2 separate regions of the Homo sapiens genome follow, and region 1 is linked to region 2. The links come from fine-mapping of genetic effects on plasma protein levels. A gene starts in region 2. The other region holds a variant in brackets. All regions are shown on one strand. Distances are from middle to middle.

Region 1 (9,720 bases), 56 kb before region 2:
ATCTAGAGAAAAATAAGGACTGTAAACCAAAAAGTATCTCAGACAGGTCTCATTCAATTTAGAAGTTGATTTTGCCAAGGTTAAGGACATACCTGGAAGAAAAGAACACAGAATCACAGAAACAGTCTCTGGTCTGTTCCTTTATCCAAGGATGACTTTGAGAGCTTCAGTATTTAAAGGGGAAAAGTGGGTTGGAGAGGTAAGAGCGAGGGTATAGTAATCTAAGTTGCAGGAGAAAAGGCGCAGGTAGGGGAATGGTGAATGATGCATTCATCTTGTGTGCAGCAAATCAGCACTTTACATGAAATAGGGTGAACATAGAGTAGCTACCTATGGAGATATTTAACCTTTTATCTGTAGCTATCTGCTTAGGAACAGAAGAAAAGGCAGCTTCTTGCATGACTCAGCTTTCAGCTTATTTTTTTCCTTCTGGCAGAGTGAACTGGAGTCTCACGTTTTTATTCTCCTTTCACAGCACCGAGACTGCACAGAATCATTCCTAATTATTTCCATTTTTATGATAAAGTCCAAAGCTTGATTCCATAAAGACCTTGAAATCCTTTGGAATTCTTGCTTGAAAAAACTCTAAAAGTACATTGGTAATTTCTTACATTCCCTCTACCTATTGAACAAATAAATGAAAATGACTCATCAAATTTATTTACTTTTGGTTATTATCAGAAATTATAATCTTGAGAAAGTATACATGAACACCTTAATTTACCAAATAGCTATATGGTATACTGTTGAGTATAGTATACTAGGCTGTAGTATACAATTACGTCTAGTTTTGAAATCAAGTTTTAACAAATAGGTTATATTCTTTACTCACCAAATTCAGAACAGCATTCATTCTCCAATGAATTCAATAACCTTTCAAGTGAAAAAAATGAGTAAAAAAGAAAATGTGAGTTCTTATTTAGGAATGAGATGGAACATGTTCTGCAAATTAATGAGCTTAAAGCATCAGACAACACACCTGGTTATACTTGAAAGTTATCAAAAATGCTTCCATTTAGCATATTTCACCTTAAATATCCACAGTACGTTTAGAACCCTCTAATTAAGACAAAATAGCAGCTTGTATGTGCACAATGAGAGTGTGCCAGACTGGAACATCAAAAAGATATTGGAAGTTCTCTATTTCATTATTTATCATTTCTTCCCCCACATAATATATTGCCTTGTACAGTTTTCAATTAGGACTTCCCCCATTCTCTAGGAAAAAAAATGTAATTTTGTGCCTTTATTTAGATGAACTATATTATCAATATTCACATAGTCCAGGTCGCATGAATGTTCACCTTATAATCAAATATTTCTATGCAATCTCAGTGGTTTCTATTTGTACTTATAGCCTTTCCTTATTCAGAAGGGGGATTTTTTTTTTTTTTTTTTTTTTTTTTTTTTTTTTTTTTTAGATGGAGTTTCGCTCTTGTTGTCCAGGTTGGAGTGCAATGGCGCCATCTCAGCTCACTACAACCTCCACCTCCTGGGTTCAAGCAGTTCTCCTGCTTCAGCCTCCCAAGTCTGAAAGCTGAAAATAAGCTGAAAGCTGAGTCATGCAAGAGCTGCCTTTTTATGTTTACATTTTAGTTTAAAATTACTTTCTAATTTTTTTGTGTGTGACTTCCCCTGTGACCCATGGTTTGTTTAGAAGTACATAGTTTGATTTCCAACTATTTGGAGATTTACAAATATCTTTCTGTTACTGATTTCTAGTTTAATTTGTGGGTAGAGACAATAATTTTTACTGTTTCAATTATTTTAAATTTGCTGAGATTTGTTTGATGATACACAGTGGAGTCTATTTTGATGAATTTTCCAAGTGCATTGGAAAAGAAAGCATGTTCTTCAGTTATTGGGTGCAATGTTCTACAAATGTCCATTAGGTCAAGTTGGCTGATAGGATTGTTCAGGTCTTCTATATCAATAGTTCAGAAATTTGCCAGCCTTTTTTCAAAATCACCTTCGTAACTTTCAAAAATACTAATGCCTGTATCTCACTCCTTAAGACTGTAATTTATTCTGAGGTGTGGTCTGTTCACTAGAATAATTAAAAGATTCCCAGGTGATTCTAATATACTGAAAAGTTTGGGACCTGAGTTCTGTATACTTAAATTATCTGTATAGTTGTTTTACAAATTGCAGAGCAGGGAGTAATGAACTGTTTGAATTCAATTAATTTTTGATTCATTTCTATTTTGTAGCACTGTGGTTAGGATTTTGTGTCTTCTTGATGAATATGCCCCTTTATCTAATTGTTTTAATGTTATTTTACCTAATTATTAGTGAAGGTAAACATTTTTTAAAAACCTTTCTGGCCGTTCAGTTTTCCTCTTCTGTAAGTGGCCTACTTACGTTATTTGCATATATTTATCTTGAGTTGTCTTTTTCTTACTGATTTGTCTGAATTCTTTTTTTTTTTTTTGAGACGGAGTCTCACCCTGTCGCCCAGGCTGGAGTGCAGTGGCACCATGTCACTGCAAGCTCTGCCTCCTGGGTTCATGCCACTCTCCTGCCTCAGCCTCCCGAGTAGCTGGGACTACAGGCGCCCGCCACCACGCCCAGCTAATTTTTTGTATTTTTAGTAGAGACGGGGTTTCACCGTGTTAGCCAGGATGGTCTCAATCTCCTGACCTCGTGATCCACCCGCCTCGACCTCCCAAAGTGCTGGGATTACAGCCGTGAGCCACCGCGCCTGGCCTGAATTCTTTATATTTTGAGAGTTTTACTATATTCTGCCAACCTGTGGCTTGTTTTTTAACTTGATTAGAGATGGCTTCTCTTCTGTTTGTAAAACTTCCAAATTTTAAAATAATCAATATTTTACATCTTTCCTTAATGAATCGTGCTGTTTCTTCCCTACGGCGATATACAGACATACGCTTTTCTTCTAAAAGTTTAGAGTTTTGTTTGTCACATTTTGGATCATTATTTCATTTGGAATTTAGTTTTATTTCTGTCGTGGTATCAGGATTGAATTTCTTATTTTTATATAAATAGCCAATTTAACTAGAACCACCATAACTTGTGTTTTCTATATCCCACGAACAGTTACTATACTAATTTACACTCCCAACAGTAATGAATAATAGTTTTTTCCCCACAACCTTAGAAACAGTTATTCCTCACCAGACATCTTTATTGTATACCAACTTCCAGGTACCCTTTTTTTCCTAATTTTCTTTTTGTCTATTCTTGTGTCAATACCACTTTTTTAAAAGTTGCTTTAAAATAGAATTACCATATGATTCAGCACAAATTAACACACACTTCTGGGTGTATATCCAAAAGAACTGAAAAGAGGGTCTCAAAGAGACATTTGCACACCCATGTCCATAGCAGTATTATTCACAATAGCCAAAAGGAGGAAGCAACCTAAGCGTCCACTGATAGATGAATAAACAAAATGTGGCATAATACACATAATAAATGATATATAGAACTATTCAGCCTTAAAAAGGAAGTTCTGCAATATGCTATAACATGGATGAACTCTGAGGCATTATGCTAAATGAAATAAGCCAGTCATAAAAGGGCAAATTCTGTATTATTCCACTTAGGTGAGGTACCTAGAGTAGTCAAACTGATAAACACAAAGTAAGATGATTACTGCCAGAGGATGAGGGGAATAGGAAATGGAGAGTTGCTCTTTAATAGGTATACAGTTTTAGTTTGGCAAGATGAAAAGAGAGATTGGTTCTGGAGATTGGTTGGAGAACAATGTGGAATGTATCTTATACTACTGAAGTTAAAAATGGTTAAGATGGTAAATTTTATTCTATGTATATTTCACTACAATTAAAAATATTTAAAAATACTGTTCTAGCAAAAACAAAAGGTTGCTTTTAATAGTTTCTCTTGATCTTTGGTGTCCTGCAATTTCACCGTTGCATAGAATTCTTATATTAATCCTGCTCAAGAATAAGTACTTCTTGAATCTGAAAATTCAAATATTCCACAATCTTGGAAAATTCTTAGTTATTACTCTTTGAATACTGCCTGCATCCATTCTCTCTAGTCTCTCTTTTTTGGCACTCCTATTAGATTTATGTTGGATTTTTTTTCATTTATTTAGCTCCTACATTGCATTCTAGTAAATTTCCTCAAACTGAATATTGCAGTCGCAGCCAAATGCATAGTTCTCAAAACACTGAATAGAAGATATTTTTATATAGCTCTTAAAATGATTAAGGCGATGTGTCAGCAAACTGTGCCAGAAGTAAAAAGTCAAGAAACAGGGAGACATAAGGCTTGTCTCTACAGCTTAGGAGGCTGTGCCAAAGCCAAAATAATAATGTATTGCTGTGGATGTCTACCTTGTACTCAACGAATATTAAAGCAGGATGCCGCTTTGTGTCAAGTACTAGATTACGATGAACGGTGTCACGAAGAACACTCCAC[T/C]CTTGATACCGTATATGTGACCTTGAGCAAGAAATGTGTTCACGCTCAGGCTTCAGTTCCTTTCTGTGGGTTGCTGTGAGGCTCCACAGGGGTAAGGTAAGCACAAGTGCTATGCCTCAGTACCACTAGGGTATTTTCTCAATTCTAAAATATTAAATGGCCACGCACTACAGATTTAATAATAGTTTCGGAGGAGGGGCGTGAGGAGAGGAACATTCCACTAGCTCAACTATAAGCTTTCCGATTTCGGAAATAAGAAAAATATGAAAAAGTCTGCTTTTAGAATTAAGGAACGACGGTGTCGCGTTGACTTTCTCTGCTTGGTTCGCAAACGCTCTTTTCTCGAACTTGAATGACTTCTCTGTCGCTCATACCAACCTCTTTCCTGAATGACTTCTCTGTCGCTCATACCAGCCTCTTTCCTGATTTTCCACACTGGGATTCTCACTCCAATTCTCAGGTTTCCTGATAGACCTGATGAGCCGCTTCACCAGCGCCGCTTAGCTTCGCTTCTTTACTGTCATTGGCTGTCGCTGTTCCAGGTCCCGCCCACAGCGACCTCAATCCTGATTGGATGTCAGTGTCCTTTTGTTATGGCAAAGGTGGATCCCGGTGCTTTGAGATTGGACGACTGGGGTGAGGCGGGCAGCTAATGCGCAGGCGTGTATTCTCGAGTCAGGATTGGCGGGCGAGCGGCTGGGACGGGATGGGATTCTTCTCACGGCGCACGTTCTGTGGGCGGAGTGGGCGGAGCTGCCGGGGTCAGTTGGTCCAAGTGTCCCGGCCTGAGGTGTCGGCCGGATCCCTCCTTCTCCCGGCGCCTCAAGCGGAAGGTGAGGGCCGTCCCGGGCAGCGGAGGGCCTGGCCCCAGGCGACTAGAGCTGCATCCTCAGTACCTCCGAGGGCCTGGAGGGCGGGGCGGGCTGGACGCGGCCCTGCGCACCGGGGGCCCGGGAGGAGCGGTCTCGGGCCTGGGCATTTGGTGGGCGGCGGAGGCCTGGCTCCCGGCAGAACCCTTGCGCGACCTCTTTTTCTCCTGTTTTCGTTGTCAGGCCCAGGCGTTCTTTGGGAGAGGGACCTCTCGCGGTCCCTGACGCAGACATCGTGTAGCTTTCTCCCCGCAGCTCCTGGGTCGGGAGCCGCTTTGCAGCTCTCGGCTCTGGAATTGGACTGCGGGAGGGGCGTTTGGGTGGAATGGGACCTGGCACGCCTGGACCTTCCCGTGGCTGCTCTGCGAGAGCCTGAGAGATGGGAGGGGAGGCTGAGGTGGGGAGGGAGCCTAGAGAGCCGTAAAATAAGGATTGGACCATTTTTCCAGGCGGCGAAAGCGGCACCTGGGTTTGTTTCCTGATCGTCTTCTCCCCCAGAGTCCTGCTGAACAAGTTTTGGGAAGAAAGGTTTGGAAAGGAGAAAGAGGATACATTCCTGAAAGGCAGGGCTTCTGTTATACAGTGTGTCAACCTCACACTATTACGCAACAATAAGGACAGATGCCATTCCAGGTTGCCAACACGTTTTCTATGCCCGAGGACCCAAAGCTGTGCCCATGTATTCTGGTACCTCTATTCCTGATTAAAATCAGTGTAGCTAGCCATTCTCTGAGAGTATAGCTTCCATTTAAATCCTCATTTGGCCAAACAGTTCCTTGATCTTGTGGAATTTGAAACTGGATTTATTTAACCAGGACAAGTCAAAGCAGAACTTGAACAGATCTGAACAGACATTATATTGAAGTTCCGTAGCTTGAAGGGAATGGAGTTTATTTTCAGTTGCTTAGTAAAGATTCCAGAGGAGTTTGACATCAGTGGTAGCAAAATGTTTGGCAAACTTAAGATTAGGGCCATATTAAAGTTTTTTCCATTGCATAATGGAAAAAGCATGGACTGTGAAGTTAGACCTGGGTTCAAATTCTTGGTAGAGACATTGGCTGTGAAACCTCTGAAACAGCTTTTCTGAAAGATATATAGACTTTCTGAAATTTAGTGTCCATATCTGTAAATTGCAGTTTCCTTCTGTTGATTTGATGAAATAACATATGCAAAGCATTTAGCACATTAATGCACGAAGACATTATTTTAGCAGTCTTAGTAGTTCTCCAGTATGACAGATGGTGAAATCAATTTTAGATGCAGAAAAGTTGAGTGGCTGAAGATGGACGGGTATTAGGAAAAAGTCTCAAAATCTGCAGGCTCAGATGTGACAATAGTTGTGGTGGAATGGTGGAAAAAACACTGGGCATTTGTTGTAGTCTTGGCCCTGTTGCTAACTACTTCTGTGGTCTTCAGTAAGCCATTGTCATCTTTGGCCTTGATTTTGTAAAATGAAGCAGCTGGACCAGATGGTTTTCTTTAAATTCTTTCTGTTGCCCAAATTAGAGCTAAAAGGTAGAGAAGACGATAGCAGACATTTATTGAATACCTACTATGTACTAGGTACTGTTGCCAACACATTGTATCTATCCACTCATTCTCACAACAAACCCATGAGATACGTACGGTTATTATCCACATTTTACAAATGAGGAAACTTAAGGCCGAGGTGTTAACCTTGCCCAGGGTTCCAGAGCTTATAAATTGCAGAGCTAGGATTTGAATCCAGGTAATCTGAATCCATATTGTTAATCATTGTGCCAGGCTGCCTCTTGAGGAGAGTGATATTGTGGATATTGTACACTATTAGAGATAACTGTAAAATAAGATAGGGGCATATTTGGTAAGATGATCGTCTTTGGTCACAGGTGTGTGTGCATGGCAAAAATTATTTAATTAAATGAATCTTGTCCCAATGTTTGCCACATTTCCTGGTTTGTATTCTCTCTATGCGTTCTGCCTCCTGGACTTAAATAATCAAAAAAGTAATTCTAGATTCCCTTCCACTAACCAAGGCTAGATACCCGAATTTACTGTGTTTTTTGAGAAACCTTTGAAAGGTCTGACCTAGCCATACATCAGAGCTGAAGAATCTCAGCGAACCATGTCCATTTCTGGGGTAAGGTGGTTTAGGATAGGCAGAGCAGCCTCAGCGCCCCAAATTCATTTCAGTGTTCCCACGCTTGAGCAGACTTGGTCTTAATTTTCTCGTTTTTCATCAGATTTGCGTTTATATATAGGAGCAGAAGGAGTTGAAAGTGAACTCTTAAGAGCATATTTGACATGGAATTAGATTGATGTTATAGCAACTATAGGTAAAAAAGGATTTTATAGTTGAAAAATTTGAAAAGCTCAGTATTAAGTATCTGTTATGATGTAGTACTGTGTTAATGTAGACTTTGGGCAGTTTGGGGATCAATACTATTTTAAAAGAAAAAATCCATGGCTAAAATACTTTGACATAAAGAACTCAGCAAGTCTTTTGATCCCATATGTCAAACAAATCAGTTTATTGCCCTAAATCTACTGAAAGACTTTGAATATATATTAATACAATAGTAGCATTTTGAGATGGGTCTATTTGATCACATCACAATAAAATACAATTGCTTCTTGTTCTTTTGTCGTGGAAAGGCAGCAGGTAATGCTGTGGTCCACTGTACTAAAGAGTAATGCCCTTATGCGTAGGGCTGCCAGATACAGTGGGCGGTTTTTTCACTGTGCAACACTTGGGATGCAATCTTACGTAGACTGTGGTGTGAATTGTGCTCTCTCGCGTTGTATACCCTTATAGCACTGTTCTTGTGGCACTACTTTTGTGCTCCTGCCTCTACCCTAATCTTGAGTGTAAGAGTAATTTTTCCTTTAATAAGCCCTCTCCACCCTGTTTTTCTGCTTTTTATTTTCTTTCACTTTTTCAGATGAAGTCACACTGTTGCTAAACCATGCATAGGTTTTCTATTGTTTGAATTATATGTGGTCAGAATTTCAGAAACTGGCTTCTTTTTCTTTACCTCTTATATTGGTGAGTTTGGAATACTTGTGTTTTTGCAGACTTTTTGGTTTAATTTAAATATTAGTCTGAAACATAAGCAAAAGAAGACTACCCTATCACTGTATTATATCTGACTTCAAAATCAGCTGTGTCGATTTTCTGATTATCTGTTGCTTTGGCTTGTATATCTTATAACTCTTCTTAGCTATCATGAAAATTCGTTCTAGCTGTAGCCTTAAAATCATTGGATATGAGAAATTTGAAGCACTTTTAATTTATTATTTAGCAAAGACAGATGCCAAATTGCAGCTTACTCTTGCTGAGCACTCCCACGATCACTTTTGCTTTTGGCTGTTGCCTCTCTCATCTTACTCAGACCTCTTTTAGCTGGATCAGTGGTTGAAATGGTATGAAAAGAGAATGACTGTAGTACCTGGTTACAGGTGTGCTTCTCTGTCAGGGAAATGTCAAATCAAGTTTTCACTGACACTCTTCCTCTTCAATTATAGTTAAAGAGACATGTTGATTCAATGGAGAGGAATAGTTTTTGGAGTGTGGTCTTTAAATACTACAGTAGGCTGAATAACTTTTAAAAAAAGAATTGTTGGAAAAATTTTAGTAATCTGAAATGCAGAGAACCTGAGAATTAAATAATGTGAAAAAGAGGTCGGGCAGAGCAACTTTAAATGCGGTTTAGATAAGGGGACAGATGCTAGAAGACTTGGAGTAGGTTTATTCAGCATTATTAAATTAATTGTATACCATTTGTAGTTAATTATTTAATAATGTTATACAAGGGATATTTCATATTTTTTTCTAGACTAGTGAGTGCTATCTAACTTGAACTATAAACTTGAAGTTTATGTATATGTACACTGGGCATTTTAATTTGAAGTTCATGTTAGTATCTAAAGTGTAACAGGATTTATGTAGATGTACACTGGGCATTTTCAAATTTCATGTTAGTATCTGAAGTACAACAAGATTTGTATTAACAGCTGTGAGAGAATGTGTAATACACTGATATCTCTATTGTGATTCTAGTTCTAGTATGTAGATATCCTTATTTAATAGGTCTGCTTTCTACTGTTTAAGATACGGAGGCATAACAATGCCTTGGGCATAGAAGATATTCAGTAAATACTTGTTGAAAGAATAACACTGACAGGTCTAGGTTGCTTCAATGTAGTAGATTAGATTGGTTAACAAATCTGTTTTCAGTAATAATCTGGTGACATTATTTAATATATTTTGAACATATTGAATGAAATGATTGTTAGCAATGGAGCAGAACATGTTTTATAGAAATTTTTTGTTCTAATATTTAGAAGTCTTCATTGTAATAATAAAATGTTAGTATTTATTTACTTATTTACATCCTGATTAGTCTGTTTTGATTTAACCCTGACTAGGAGCTGATGAATGGACATTTTTTCATTTATTCCATAT
Region 2 (9,652 bases):
TCCATATGTTTATTATGTTTAGTTGGCTTGTGGTGTTATCTATTTCTTTATTGATCTGTATGGTTGTTTAAGTTATATAATTTTAGTACAGCAAGAATTTGTTTATATGGTATAGGGTAGAACATTTAGTGCTAATGTCACCCTCTTCCCTCCTTATAAATTAAAAGGTAGCATGCCCAGGGTTCCAAGCTTCTTATGTATTCCTCACTCCATGAGGCTTGCTGAGATCACTAAATATCAGTTGTGCCTTCATAAGAAGGGAGGCACTGAAGAACTACATCCTTCTGCACCAACACGTATCTTTGATCTCATGTATGTTCTCTGCACTGCTTCTGTGGTAGTTCAATAACAAATTGAAGCACAAGTAACTTTATCCATGAATGAGATACCATTCTTCCCAATCTTTGAAATCTAGATCAAGTAGTCTGGTCTACTTTAAATAATTACACCAATATCTCCTAAAAACCCTACTGGATCTCCACTACCACCCCCAAATTACAAATTATAAAGTGCAGCTCATGTACTGGTATTGAAGTAATGCTCACTGTCACATCAAAGGTAAGTAAGGCACACAAAGAAAAGACAATCACAGGATATGCAATATGTGTTGTATAGTGTGGGAGAAGTTGCTGGCTGATCACAAGGGTAATTTCCTTGGCACTAGATGTGACCATTACCTGGTTCCAGCCAACAGAATGTAAATAGAAGACCTGTATGCCATTGTCAGCCCTTGCCCATAAAAACTTCCTATAATTATGAATTATAATTCTTTATGATCTTTCCCCTTCTGGTTTGATGCAAGCAATTTTGAAGGTCATGGTTGAAAACGGCAAAATTCCAAGGTAGGAAGTTGCAGAATCCCTGAATCATTACTTGGAGGAGAGTCATTTTATTAGTCAGAGTTCATCAGAGAAGCAGAATCAATAGGGTGTGTGTGTGTGTGTGTGTGTGTGTGTGTGTGTGTGTGTACATACAGGCATACCTCATTTTACTGCACGTTGATTTATTGCATTTTTCACAAATTGAAGGTTTCTGGCAACACTGCATTGAACAAGTCTACAGCTGCCATTTTTCCAACACTATAGTCACTTTATGTTTCTGTGACACATTTTTGTAATTCCTTTTTTTTTTTTTTTTTTTTTTTTGAGATGGAGTCTTGCTCTGTCACCCAGGCTGGAGTGCAGTGGCACAATCTCGGCTCACTGCAACCTCTGCCTCCTTGGTTCAAGCGATTCTCCTGTCTCAGCCTCCCGAGTAGCTGGGATTATAGGCGCGCGCCACTATGCCCGGCTAATTTTTGTATTTTTAGTAGAGACGGGGTTTCACCATATTGGTCAGGCTGGTCTCCAACTCCTAACCTCAGGTGATCCGCCCGCCTCGGCCTCCCAAAGTGCTGGGATTACAAGCGTGAGCCACCGCGCCGGGCCTTCTTTCACTCTCAACACACCTATTTAACACACTTTTTGTACATGCTATTTCTTATAACTGCGATGCCTTTCTGCTGTTATTCAGTTTTAATGGCTGACTGAGGATCCGACCAACACTGGTATATTCCAGAAGTGGTGTTTGACAATCACCTATTACTTAAAGTTTTAGTTGTCATGTGGCTTCAGGAATGCAATGTAGAATGATATAATAAAAAGTACACCCAACATGGCACAATCGCACCAAGTTTCTAGTTTTATTATTAAAAAGACAAGTGATAAAAACTGCTGTGGGCCTGTTTTCTCATTTGTGACGTGAACTAGACAATCCAAAGATTCTTTAAAGTTCATAATTCTAGTTTTCTATTTAAAAACACCAGTATTTATTAGGTACTTAAAAAGTACTACAGCTAACTTACAACACTTCAATTTCTAGACAAATGCATCAACATACTTACATCATTTACACACAATAATTAACCTTATCAACTAGCTAAGACAGAGAGTACAGAATATCTTGTTCTGAGGATTTGGAGATGAGATCTAAATGTTACTGGAAGATCAAACCAATAAGACGTGAAGGCAAAACTCCAAACTGAAAACAGGTCAAACTTACAATGACCCAAAGGAGGGCTACCTCGAGTGATGTCGACATTTGTAAAACAAGCAAAATCATCAGATGAGATCGGGATTTTGCCTGCTTTTAAGCAACAAAAAGTTTATACGTTAATGAACTCTTTTCTAATTTGAGACTTCTTCCTGTGGCCACGTTATTTACCTTTTCTCTCCCAGTCCTGAGCTTTGGTTGCCATTTGCTTTTAACTCCCAAGCAAACACCTCCTCTTTGTTGCTTGGGCAGATGCTATAAATAAAATCAGCGAAAGTGTCTGATTGATGGTAAACAGGCCTGGGGCGATAATGAGTCTAGTAATTAGGGCCTCTCTGGATTCAACCCAGCCCTTTCGCCCGCCCCCCGGCGGCGCACAATGGGCTCTGCGCGGGTATCGAGGGAGCGGCCAACAGTCCCTGGCCCCACCGCCGTGAAGTGGGGTCCCTTCGCTTCCACATAGGTGGAGACTGAGACAGCCGAGCCTATTTTGATCTCGTTTGGGTTTCTGTAAGGAGCAGTCAGCAGAGTGAGCAGCGCCCAGACGCGCCCCGGGCCCCCTCTACAACCATTGGGAGAGCGCCCCGGGCTCAAGCGTGGAACGGGGCTGCAATGGCAACCGCTGGAATAACGGCCTCGGCTCCCGGTGGCTCCTCAAGCCCGCAGGGGAGGCCGGCCGGGCTAGGCACCTAGCTGTCCCCGTGCTCGTCCGCCCCAGCCCGGGCGCAGCAGGTGGATGCGGCGGTGCTGAAGACACAAAGGGTCCCAGGTGGCACCACCTCCTGCGTCCACCCACGGGGCCGCCAGAGCCCAGTCAAGACCCTAGCTCGCTGCAGCCCCATCGCCAGACTCAACATCCACCCTCACTTGGCCCCGACCGGTTCAGCCCTCTGGCGGCAAAGTAACGGGGTGCCTGGGGGAAGCAGCAACGACTCCGCTTCCTCACCCCAATCTGCGCGCAAAGGGCAGCGGGACAGCGGGAACGCGGCCTGCTGCTCACGCACCTCTCTTGCGGCCTGTTTTCGGCAGTGACAGCTCAGATGTCCAAGTCGTTGCCACTTGGTCCCCGCGTCTCTTCAGACCAGTCCCGCCGGCGGCCGCGCAGCAGCGACTACTAACCGCGCGTGCGCGTGCGGTGGCGGGCGGGAGGCGGTGGCGGCCCGAGGTGTGTGCTACGCGCTCCTGCTCCGAGGGGCTCAACCGCCTCCAGGGGGAGCCGCACATGGAGCCTGTGCCGCCGCCGGCCGGTTGTGGCCTGGACCCCGCTCCCGGGTTAGCCCAGGAGGAATTCCCCCTGCAAGTCCGAAGACTTTTCCTCCTCTGAGCTCCCGCCCTCTCTGCAGACCGTGCTACCTCCTGTTGCGCAATGATTGGGTCCTGAATTTTATGTAAATCATATTTATGAACAACGTCCAGTAATAAGTGCAGCAAGATTAGGGCTCTAGGTTTTCTCCAGAGTTCTAGATGTTAACAGATCTGCAGTCATGGTGATTAATAAGGAGCTTTCCTGTCTGGTGTGTGTATATGACAAATACAGATGCGTTAAGTGTTAATAAATACATTGTATATAAAACAATATGTTCTTTTTCTCTCGAACAACACTATTAATAAGAGCTGCTAACATTTATTGTGTTCATTGTGCTCTAAGGGGCTTACATTCATTGTTTAACCTTCGTGGCAACCCAGGTGATGAAACTGATGGCAACTTGCTCGAAGTTACACAACATGTAAACAGTGGAAACGGGATGTAAATCAGGCCTGTCTCTCTCAGAGCCTGTAGTTTCAAACACATTGAAATAAATCTTAGCATAAACGTAGTTTATGCTATGATTATGCAATCACAAGCTGCTTTGCCTTTTATATATTGGATCAATATTAATTTTACTACTTAATATTTTATAGTAAATCTTGACTTTGAATTTGGTATAACAATTTAATTTTATTGGAAGATTAATTAACAACATTTAATTGACTTGTGAGTCTAAGACCCTTGTTGAAGAGTTTCAATCTTAAGGGTTTGGTGGCATTCCGTGCACAACGTATCATTATTGGCTAGGGGTCAAGATCACTGAGTTTTTTCACATTGCTTCACTAATTAAGACCAGCATTTCTAAACTTTTGACTTTGTCATCTCTGGGAGAGTGTTTGGATAGTGTTAAAATTTACTGGTTAAAAAGACATTTTGTTTGAGATACTTTGTAACAATATTATACCCTTTATTTCTTTCTTCCGTCCTTCTGACTTCTATTATTCAACATACTTCTGTGGCCCATAACAAATACACTTGAACTGCTAGAGAGGGATTTTTTAAAGGATCCATTCAAAGTTTGCAGTGAGGAAGCTGAAAACTAAAAATGTAAGAATAGTGAATTTTTGCAAGATTTAGTAGTATCTTCTTGGTCACATAGTACTCAAAACCTTGAGAACATTTTTTTACTCTTTGGCTGCTACATTCACTGCCTCCATAAATTAAACTCTAACTCCATAAAATCATCTAAAAGAGGTCCTCACCCCCTCCAGTCCCTGTGCCATTTCTCTAGTTTAGATTCTCACTACTTTAGAAACTGTTGTTCAGAGTTACCTAACTAGTTGCCCCCCTTCAGAGCCTCCCACCTACACTTCGTAGTTTAATCCTCAGCTCATTCAATAGTTTCCAATGACCCTTCATTACCCACAGCATGAAATCTAATCTCTAACCTTGAAATTTAAGGCCTTAACATATCTCCAAAATTATTTGCCACTTATTGAAAGGATGATTGAATATAATATTTATAATTTGTTTAATAGGCAACTTTTCATCAGAATAATACAATGTGATAATGTCAGAGGAGAAAGAATAATCTGCAAATAAGACAAGGGGTATGGCTTTTGAGAGTGATGTAGTGTTTAATAATACAAGCGGAGGAGTCCCAGAATGTAATGCTGAATGGTAGAGTCGTGAAGTGTTCTGACACATCAAAGTTGAAGAGAGATTTGGGAAGAGACCAAGGCAATGTAATCAAGATTGGAGGGACTAGAGTAATCAGAAATCTAGAAAAACATAAAAAGCAGGAAAGGTGACCTGGCATGGTGGCTCATGCATGTAATCCCAGCTCTTTGAGAGGCTGAGGCAGGTAGATCACTTGAGCCGAGCTGCCTGAGACCAGCCTGGGAAACATGATGAAACCCCATCTCTACAAAAAAATACAAAAAATTTAACTGGGCATGGTGGTGCATGCCTGTAGTCCTAGCTACCTGGGAAGCTGAGGTGGGAGGAAGCTGAGGTGGGATGAGCCCAGGAGGCAGAGGTTGCAGTGAGCCCAGATAGTGCCACTGCACTCCAGCTTGGATGGCAGAGTGAGACATTGTGTCAAAAAAAAAAAAAAAAAAAAAAAAAAAAAAAAGCAGAAAGGTTCATGCTCCTTGATGGAACAGAGTGATGTCCTGTTGGAAGCCTGTTTTGTAATCAAAATCAGAGCTGTGTTTTATTAATGTTCTACTATGTGCAAGTTGCTATATGCAATTGACCCACAGGTATCATCCTTATTTTACTTATGAGGAAATAGACCCAGATCAGTTACATAACTTATTCACACAGATCTTAAGATGCAGAGTGAGGATTCAAAGCCTGTGCCCTTTCCACAACACCTTGCCACTTGAAAAATGCAGAATATAGGAAATGCCTCGATTATCAGGATTAAAGAGCTATGCAGAATGAAGTTTTAACTCAAATACAATGAGTGGACTCAGAACCTAGATAATTCAAATAATACTTTAAAAATGTTTGTATATTTTCATATGTTTAGGAATGTGCTTTTTAATGGTGCAGAAAATAGAGAAAAGGAAACAAAGTATTCCACAAGTATTTCCAGTGGGTTGACTTTTATTTTCAAGATGTATAATTATGTCTATGGCAGAAAATGATCTTTTCTTTCTTATATTTATACTTATTTTCTGAGGTTTTTTTCCTTATTACTTTAACAAAAATATCAAACAATAGTAAATAATAGTAATGACAATAGTCATCATTGTTTTTCCCAGAATTCGTCTGGTTAAACTATATAGTTGGCAGAATGAGCCCATGCTGAGTTTTTTTCTTGTGTCTCAAGATAACCCCCCTCAGAAACACTACCCGACTTTAGGATTTATAGAATGATATACAGCTATAGTTATCAAAGAGTTATCAAAGAGTATTAGTATCAAGGCAAACAAATCAATGGAACAGAATAGATTCTATATAGACTTACATGTGTATGTATTATGGCCTGGATATGGTTGGTTTGTCCCAACCAAAACTCATGTTGAAATTTGGTCCCCAGTGTGGCAGTGCTGGAAAGTGGGGCCTAATGGGAGGTATTTGGGTCATGAAGGTCCTGTCCTCGTAGGTGGCTTGATGCCATTGCAGTAGTGAGTGAGTTCTTGCTCTGACGAGACTGGATTCATTCCCATGAGAATGGGTTGTTATAAAGCTGGGTGCCCCTCAGGTTTTCCCTCTTTGCATGCGTCTGCTTCCCCTTTGACCTTCTCTGCCATCTTTTGGCCTAGCACAAAAGCCTCACCACAAGCCAGAGCCATGTCCTTGAACTTCCCAGCTAGCCAGACTGTGAGTTAAATAAATCTCTTTTCTTTATAAATTACCCATTCCCAGGTGTTCTGTTATAGCAACACAAAACAGAATAAGACAGTGTGGGGAACTGGTTTTCAACATAGGTACACATGCAGTTGGTAGAGAAAGCCTAGTCTTTTCAACAAATTGTGGTGGTACAATTGAATATTCACATGTAATAAGTACATTTTTCAATCCATACCACACAGCATATATAAAAAAAGAGACTGGCTGCATTTTGCCCCGTCTTAGATATTTGTGGAACTTTGAACTTGAGGGAGATGATTTAGGATATATGGTGTAAAAAATTTCTAAGCAGCAAAGCACTCAAGAGGTGACTTGGGTGCTATTAGAGGCACTCCGTTTTAAAAGGGAAACAGAAAATAAAAGGTTTGAAAATTTGCAGCCTGACAATGTGATAGAAATGAAAATCTCCACTGCAGAAATTTTCATAAGTAACAAGAAGCCAAATGTTAATCCACACGACAATGGGAAAATGTCTCCACGGCATGTCAGAGGTCTTCATGTCAGCCACTCTCATCACAGGTCCAGAGACCTAGGAGGAAAAGACAGTTTTGTGGGCTGGGCCCAGGGCTCCTCTGCTCTGTGCAGCCTAGGGACTTGGTACTCTGTGTTCCAGCTGCTCCAGCCATGGCTAAAAGGGGTCAACGTACAGCTCAGGCTGCTGCTTCAGAGGGTGGAAGCCCCAAGCCTTGGCAGCTTCCAGGTGGTGAGCCTGTGGGTACCCAGAAGTTGAGAATTAAGGTTTAGGAACCTCTACCTAGATTTCATAGGATGTATGGAAACGCCTGGATGCCCAGGTGGAAGTTTGCTGCAGGGGCGGGGGTCTCATGGAGAAGCTCTGCTAGGGCAGTGCTGAAGGGAAATGTGGGGTCAGAGCCCCCCACACAGAGTCCTTGTGGGGCACCACCTAGTGGAACTGTCAGAAGAGGGCCACCATCCTCCAGACCCCAGAATGGTAGATCCACTGACAGCTTGCGCTGTGCACCAGGAAAAGCTGCAGACACTCAACACCAGCCTGTGAAAGCAACTGGGAGAGAGGCTATACTTTGCAAAGCCACAGGGGTGCAGCTGCCCAAGACCGTGGGAACCTACCTCTTGCATCAGCGTGACCTGGATGTGAGACATGGAGTCAAAGGAGAGCTTTAAGATTTGACTGCCCTGCTGGATTTCAGACTTGCATGGGGCTTGTAGCCCCTTTGTTTTGGCCAATTTCTCCCATTTGTAGTGGCTGTATTTACCCAATGCCTGTACTCCCATTGTATCTAGGAAGTAACTAACTTGCTTTTGATTTTACAGGCTCATAGGTGGAAGGGACTTGCCTTGTCTCAGATGAGACTTTGGACTGCAGACTTTTGAGTTAATGTTGAAATGAGTTAAGACTTTGAGGGACTATTGGAAAGGGATGATTGGTTTTGAAATGTGAGGACATCAGATTTTGGAGGGGACAGGGCAGAATGATATGGTTTGGCTGTGTCCCCACCTAAATCTCATCTTGAATTGTAACTCCCACAGTTCCCAAGTCTCATGGGAGGAACCTGGTGGGAGATAATTGAATCATGGGGGTGGGTCTTTCCCATGCTGTTCTTGTGATAGTGAATAACTCTCATGAGATCTGATGGTTTAAAAAAAACAGGAATTTTCCTGCACAAGCTCTCTTCTCTTGTCTGCCACCATGTGAGGTGTGACTTTAACCTTCTGCCATGATTTTGAGATCTCTCCAGCGATGTGGAACTGTAAGTCCATTAAACCTCTTTCTATTGTAAATTGCCCAGTCTTAGGTATGTCTTTATCAGCAGCATGAAAATGGACTAATAAATATATAAATCAGTGGGGCCATCTGGCTCTACATTTGGGGTGGAAAGATTTAGAGTTGGATTTTCTACCATTACACACACACACACACACACACACACACACTATTTTAATGGAAATAGAGACCTAAACTTTAAAAATTATAGAAGTTTTATAATATAATATATGGGACTATATGCTTGATGTGGGTAGGTAGGTTGTTTTAAACAATACGAAAAGTGAAAAAGTCATAAAAGAAATTATTAATATATTTGGCTATCTCAAAGTTGAAAATTTTGTATGTCAAAAGACAATACAAAATAAGTTTAAGACAAAAGACTTTCTGAGAAAAGTAATTTTAGCCTATGACAAACTATTAATATTTAGTTTAGGAGTTTAATTAGGTTCCTGTATGTGTTTTAAGAACCTCATATTTAAATGAAGAAGAAGAAGACAAATAGCTCATTAAAAAAATCAGGATTGGGAGGCCGAGGCGGGCAGATCACGAGATCAGGAGATCGAGACCATCTTGGCTAACATGGTGAAACTCCATCTCTACTAAAAATAGAAAAAAAAATTAGCTGGGCATGGTGGCGGGCGCCTGTAGTCCCAGCTACTCGGGAGGCTGAGGCAGGAGAATGGCGTGAACCTGGGATGCGGAGCTTGCGGTGAGCCGAGATTGTGCCACTGCACTCTAGCCTGGGCGACACAGCGAGACTCCATCTCAAATAAAAAATCAGGAAAGATATAAATATGTGAGAAAATTTAAACCCTACTTGTAATTTGAGAAAGGCAAACTAAGACTATAACAAAATACTGCTTTCACTAGACTGGCAACAATTTCAAAGCTCACTAATAGCAAAGGGCAAGACTTGGGAAAACTGCTGCTTTCAAACACTACTCTTGGGGATATATGTTGATATGGCTATTTCTGGTGGCAATTTGGCAGTATCTGTTAAAATAAAAAATATTCATACCTTTTGAGTCAGCAGTACCACTACTGATTATTTAAACTAGGAAAAAGACTCTATGCTCAAGTAGGCACCCAGAAGAATGTACATTGAAACACTGTTGTAACACTGAAAAAAATATTTAAATAGTAATGGATCAATTTCTGCATCAGAGGAGGAAATGCTAAATAAATTATGCTCTATTCATATTTTAGAATATTGTGTTGATGTTAAAAAGAAAGAATTAGATCCATGTTGGTGACACAGAAAA

Direction of the effects. Alleles are on the strand shown, and positions count from the first base shown. The strength of an association depends on the size of the effect and on how common the allele is.
With allele T in place of C in region 1, the plasma level of the protein whose gene starts at base 3,147 in region 2 is lower (weak association).

The links. A credible set is the group of variants that fine-mapping cannot tell apart. PIP is the posterior inclusion probability: the model's chance that the variant is causal. The UK Biobank Pharma Proteomics Project read protein levels with antibody pairs (Olink). The fine-mapping took linkage between variants from a reference panel, not from the people measured, so its PIPs are less certain.
Region 1: its variant is the best candidate, but not a certain one, in a credible set for the plasma level of the CLGN protein (UK Biobank, PIP 0.68).

The regions. Positions count from the first base shown.
Region 1 is chr4:140,368,478-140,378,197 of GRCh38, forward strand. It overlaps SCOC (short coiled-coil protein), which reads left to right and starts at 5,169. Exons shown (of 4, transcript NM_001153484.2): 1 at 5,169-5,240. It overlaps SCOC-AS1 (SCOC antisense RNA 1), which reads right to left and starts at 4,915. Exons shown (of 5, transcript NR_033939.1): 1 at 4,786-4,915; 2 at 833-873. RefSeq lists enhancers at 4,852-5,353, 5,049-5,098 and a silencer at 5,259-5,458. The variant T/C (reference allele first, on the strand shown) is at 4,408.
Region 2 is chr4:140,424,502-140,434,153 of GRCh38, forward strand. It overlaps CLGN (calmegin), which reads right to left and starts at 3,147. Exons shown (of 15, transcript NM_004362.3): 1 at 3,036-3,147. RefSeq lists an enhancer at 2,304-2,353.